2 separate regions of the Homo sapiens genome follow, and region 2 is linked to region 1. Evidence: fine-mapped expression QTL. A gene starts in region 1. The other region holds a variant in brackets. All regions are shown on one strand. Distances are from middle to middle. Region 1 holds the start of SIRT2 (sirtuin 2). Region 2 holds the start of RINL (Ras and Rab interactor like).

Region 1 (2,900 bases):
TCTCTGACAATCCCCAGAATCTGCCTTTCCCCAGAAAGCTGCACTGGGTGGTGTGAGGGATTGGGGCAATGAGCCGAGGGCCCTGGGGTGACTGTTTCCCCTTTGCCACCTCCCCCCAGTGTGGGATGTGGAACAAGTCCGTCTCTCTCCTCCCCTCCACCCTTTCCCCCATCTCACCTGAGCCTCCTGCACCTTCCCTGCCTGGGTCTCCAGAGGGTGAGAGGCTGGGGGAGGGGAGCAGAGGTGGTTACAGTGGGGAGAACGATTAAGGGGGGAATAAAGGGGTTCAAATGGTCAGTGAGGGGGCAAGAACACCCACCAACCTAGTTACACTGGGATGGGATGGTGGTAAAAATGGAGCAGAGGGAGGGAGGGGACGGAGAAAAGATCTTATCTACATGCAAAGTGATGCCGGGAGAGGTGATTAGTGAGGGGCAGAGAGGCTGGAGAGGAAGATTTAGGGGGACAGGGAGAAAGTAGGGGCTTTTGCCCAGGCTGGTCTTGAACTCCTGGGCTCAAGCGATCCAACCACCTTGGCCTCCCAAAGTACTGGGATTACAAGCATGAGCCATTGTTTCTGGCCCTGACTTACTTTCTTTCTTTTTTACTTTTTAGAGAAAGGGTCTCGCTCATGTCACCCAGGTTGGAGTGCAATAGTGCGATCATAGCTCACTGCAGCCTCAAATTCCTGGGCTCAAGCGATCCTCCTCCTCCTACCTAGGGGATTCAGGGCATGAAGGAACACTCAGGAGGAGTTAGGAAGGACACGACAGTGTGTGAGTGTGTGTGCGGGGAGGGTTAGATTTACAAGGCAGAGGGAAGTTTAGAAAGGAAAAGAGAAGGGAAGAGACGCTTTGGCTGGGAGGCAGGTTTAGGAGGGAGGTGCAGTGGTGCAGTGGAGGCGGTAGGTTTAGGAGAGGCGCGGAACAAGGGGAAGCCATAGGAGGGGTCAGCAGGGGTCCCTCAGCATCCTCTGGTTGCCTCTAACAATCAGGTACCCATAGCAAGCGGGACCGGGGCAACTTATGTTCTTTGCAGCGAGGGACCTTAGCAACCAAGGTGCGAGAAACACGCGATCATTGGCAACTTGGCAAGTGGATGTGGTAAACGAACCCTGAACACACTGCGACCCAGAAACCCACCAGCCTAGCGATACAGATCGCTAAGCAACAGCCCTCAGAATCCCACTCCCCGAAGCGCTCCCTACTTCCCGCCCCACCGCGGCCACCCTTGGGCCCCGGGGCCTGCAGCATTCAGCCAGGCCCCGGCGCGGCCCGACCCTCCTACCCGGATCCCCGACTCACGGTCTGGCTCTGCCATGGGCGCGGTGCTGAAGCCCTTGAGGCTGTCACCGACCGCTCTGTCCCGTCACCAACCACTGTGTCCCGTCACCGACTGCTCTGTCCTGTCACCGACTGCTCTGTCCCGTGACGGCACCAGAAATGGGAGTGGCCGTGATAGGGCACAGAACTACAACTCTCAGCAGACATTGCGGCCGCAGACGCGCTTTCGTACAACACCCAGAGCGCCCCAGTTAGGTAAGAAAGCGCGCGAGGACCGGACTACGAGTCCCAGAAGGCGTGGCGTCAGCAGCCATGTTGGTAAAGGGCGCCCGGAAAATGTGGGAACGGCTAGAGAGTTGTAGTCCTCCCGAATACTCTGATTGGTCAGGATGCAGTACGAGGGCGGGGTGTGAGCGATTCAGCATATTATCATTGGGTGAATCAGGGGGCGTGGTGGGGAATTTCCCGCAGGGCGGAAGCTCCAGAACTCCCGGCAAAGCCCAGCTACAGGCGGGCGACTGCGGGGGGCCCCTGAGGCGGCGGGGGCCATGGCTGGGGTCGCGTGCTTGGGAAAAGCTGCCGACGCAGATGAATGGTGCGACAGCGGCCTGGGCTCCCTGGGTCCGGACGCAGCGGCCCCCGGAGGACCTGGGTTGGGCGCGGAGTTGGGCCCGGGGCTGTCGTGGGCTCCCCTCGTCTTCGGCTACGTCACTGAGGATGGGGACACGTGAGTGAACCTTAGGCTGCCAAACGGAGCCCTAGGACCCGGCGTCACATTCCTCATTAATCTCTGATCCCTGAGGCTTCCTAACCTCATACTCCTAAATCTGACTTCCGATGCTGAACTTCCTGACCTCTAACCCCCGAGTCCTAACTTTTAACAAAACCAATCTTCTATCTAGCTATGATCCTAACCCAATCATTTCTTACCTTCTTTTCTTGAACTATGATTCTCAGCTCCTGGAATCCACATTGTATCCACTGATACCCAAACCTGACTCCAGTCCTGAGACTTCTGTTAGAACTGTGGCTTCTCCTGACTTCTAACCTCCAAATATGATCTTTGATTCTTAGTTCCCGATTTGAGCCCTAGAGTTTGATTTCCGAAATTAATACTTGGTCCCTGACTCTAAGATCCTGTCTTCTGAGCAGTGTTCTTCAAATCTTAAATTCAAAGAGAGAGAATGTAAGCTCTTCTATGTTGAATTCCTAATTAAAGTAAAAAAATAGGAAAATTAAAAAAAAGAATGTTAGCTCCATGAGACCAAGGATTCATCTGTTAAACAAATATTCTTTACACATTACCACGTTCCAGGCTCCGTTTAGGTGCTAGTGATAAAGGCAGTGAAGAAAACAAACAAAAACTTAAGCCCTTGTGGAGCATACATTTTAGTGGAGCTAAATAAACAGATTGATAAGACCACAAGGAAGGAAAGAAATGGAAAGACAGGAAGAAACAAAGAAAGACACGCAGAAAGAAAGAAACATAGAAAGTAAGAAAAGGAAATAAAGTCAGAGGTAGTTAAGTACTTTGGAGAAAAATAAAGCAGGAAAATGAGGCAATAGATAAACAAGATAAGAGCATTTCAAGGAGAAGGAACTGCAGTTGCAAAGGCC
Region 2 (2,900 bases), 21 kb before region 1:
TCTCAGCTCACTGCAACCTCCGCCTCGTAGGTTCAAGCGATTCTTGTGCCTCAGTCTCCCGAGTAGTTGGGATTACAGGCGTGCACCACCACGCCTGGGTAATTTTTGTATTTTTTAGTAGAGACAAGGTTTTGACGTGTTACCCAGGCTGGTCTCAAACTCCTGACCTCAAGTGATCCCCCCGCCTCGGCCTCCCAAAGTGCTGAGATTACAGGCATGAGCCACCACACCCGGCCGGCAGGGGTTAAATCTTTAGTACCGGATGGTGGGGAATCTGGGGATCCCAGGAGAGAGGCCAGTGTGTCTTGCGGTGTGGGGAGAGGACTCAAAACAATAGCTCTTTACTGAAGTGGTAGGAAATATGTTAAGATTTTTAACAGCCATGGGGGCTGTGTAAATGTGGGCCAGCCCTTGGCAAAACCCAGTCAGCGCCTGGAAAAGTTCTTGGCCCAGAGTAGGCAGTCCCTATATCTGGAAAGGTAATAACATCCCCTCTTCCTCCCTTCCCACACCATGGAGGGGCCACTGAATCTCTTCCCCCAGCATTTTATTATGAAAAATTTCAGACATAGAGAAAAGCTGAAAGAATTGTACAGGAAACATCCCTATGCCCACTACCAAGATTCTACCATGAACATTTTACTCATCTTGCTTTATCACACATCTGTTCCTCTCTCTCTTCATCCACCCATCAGGCCCCAGCTCCTAACCAGGTACAGAGTCCTACGTAGGTTATCACTTAGGGTGGCACTTATCCCAGCAGCAGTCCCAGGAGCAGGAGACCTGGATCGGGGGAGGATCCATCCTCCCTCCCTCCCTCCCTCCCTTCCTTCCTTCCTTCCATCCATCCAGTATTTACTGAATACAGGCTGGAATTAGGTGCCTCTGCCCTGGAGAGAGGGTGATGAACAGGACAGGCTCCTCCCCTCAGGGCCTTCCATTCTTGTTTGGGGCAGGTGTAGCATATGGATAATAGGCAGCTAAACAAATACATTAGGCCATTGACCAGAAGGCCAGGGTGTTATTAGGAAGGAGGGAGGTGGGCAGGGAGGCGCAGGTGCCCTGCCCAGGCAAGAGCAGGAAGGAAGGGAGGGGAGGGGAGGGGAGAGGGAAGCAGATGCCTGCTTGTGTACCGTGGCAGGAGAGGAGGCTGTGGGCAGTGCGTGGCAGGGGTGGGTCAGGGCAGCTGCCTCATACCAAAGGGAGGCAGCAGGGGCTGAAGATGCCAGATGCTCGGTTCCTGGGGGCCCTACCTGTTCTCGGAGGAGAGGCCTGCAGTAGCAGGAAGTGGAGAGAGGAAGCTGAGCAGGCAGGGGGAAGAGGCGGGGCTGGGGTATCTGAAGTCAACTTTCCTCCCTCTTTCTGGGGCCTCAGGCCTTTAGTGACGGGGCTTAGAGGAAGGGACACTGGCAGGCTGGGAGTCCAGGGGTCAGAGCCACGAGGGCCCCCGTGAGGACCCTCTTGTTACCCCTCACTCTGGATCCCGGAGACTTTCTGGTTCCTTAGTGGCCCAAGATCTAACCCCCTCCCTTCAGAGATTTCCCTGGGTGCCCACAGAAAGAAACAGGAGGCCAGACCGGATTGTTAGTTGTTTTTGTTTTTAATTTGTCTCCAATAAGCAATGTCTTCTGCCCATCCAGCATGGGAAGTGGGTCCCACGTGAAGGGGGCCCACCACCCACTTTGGGAGCTGAAGGCAGAGACTCGGGAGCCCTCCCGGCTCAGACTCCCCCTACGCTGGGTGTGGGTTA[T/G]ATTCAGAGGCCCACACCCACACTGGGGTAGGTTAGGTATGGTTTACTTAGCCACAGGCCCCCGGGGGCAGGAGACAGAGTGGGGGCCCGAAGCTCCCTGTCCTGGAAGAGTTAAAAGTTCTGGGGTAGCCCTGGCCCCGTGGGGGCAGTTAGAGATGAGGGAGGTTACTCCTTAGCCCAGGAGTGGTTAGAGACAGTGGGGCTGGTAGAGATGCCTGTTTAAGCCTTGGCCTCTAGGAGGTGTTAGAGATTTGCTGGGGTTGGGGGCCAGGGTTGCTGGGACCCCAGTTTTGGGGAGGGAGCTGTAAGAGATTGGGGGATGTTCTGAGCTCCCCAGACAAGAACTGCTGGTTAAGAGGGGGCCAGGCCCGGTTGGGGCTCAGCTGTCCCTGAGGAGCTCGGCATCCCGCCTGGGAGATGCAGCTGTCACTGGGGTTTCTCCCTCTCTGTTGTCCTGGCCTCGTCCTTGGCAGGTGGCGGGGACTTCTTGGGGGAAGCTGAAGTGCTGGGGTTGGGGACCCCCGCCCCCGACTGGGCATCTATGCTGGCGTGCTCCCTCCGGACAAGGTCCTCCAGCTCCTTCTGCAGGAGCAAAGGTCACAGAAGTCAAAGGTCACTGTGCATCATGGGGTCAGAGGACCCATGGGGTGGGGAGAGGGTCCAGGGATGGGGCTCAGGACAGGCTGGGGTTGCTCAGCTCCTCACCTTCCATCCAAGGAGCTCAGCAAGGGCCAGGCAGCCCTGGTCGCATTCACCCAGCCAGGCCACGTCCCTGCGGTGCAGCAGGAGATCAGAGTTCCCAGGCGGGCTCGCCCCTGCCTGCTCCTCTCATCTGCCTTCGTGCCCCCGCTCCCACCTCACCCTGTCCCTTCCAGGCTGCCCCAACCCCCGGCGGGGCCTCACCTGTAGGCCTTCTTGGAGTCAAAGTCCATGCCTCCTCCGAGGCCCATAATCATCCCCAGGAAAGGGTCCGACTGTCAGGGAGGGGGTGGGTCAGGGGCAGGAGCAGGGAAGGGAGAGCTAAGAGCACAGACCCTGGAGCCAGGTGGCCTGGGTTTGTATCCTAGCTCTGTGACTTTGTTTTTTTTTTGTTGTTGTTTTTTTGGTTTTTTTTGAGACAAAGTTTCACTCTTGTTGCCCAGGCTGGAGT

What was found.
Region 2: its variant is fine-mapped to the expression of SIRT2 in whole blood (TOPMed, PIP above 0.99).

What each region holds. Positions count from the first base shown.
Region 1 is chr19:38,898,202-38,901,101 of GRCh38, forward strand. It overlaps SIRT2 (sirtuin 2), which reads right to left and starts at 1,417. Exons shown (of 16, transcript NM_012237.4): 1 at 1,305-1,417; 2 at 178-224. The coding sequence starts at 1,320. NFKBIB (NFKB inhibitor beta) reads left to right here and starts at 1,768. Exons shown (of 6, transcript NM_002503.5): 1 at 1,768-2,010. The coding sequence starts at 1,832.
Region 2 is chr19:38,876,979-38,879,878 of GRCh38, forward strand. RINL (Ras and Rab interactor like) reads right to left here and starts at 1,297. Exons shown (of 12, transcript NM_001195833.2): 1 at 1,254-1,297. SIRT2 (sirtuin 2) reads right to left here. Exons shown (of 16, transcript NM_012237.4): 14 at 2,654-2,724; 15 at 2,456-2,522; 16 at 1,582-2,332. The coding sequence ends at 2,177. RefSeq lists a silencer at 1,084-1,133 and enhancers at 1,674-1,793, 1,834-1,933. The variant T/G (reference allele first, on the strand shown) is at 1,751.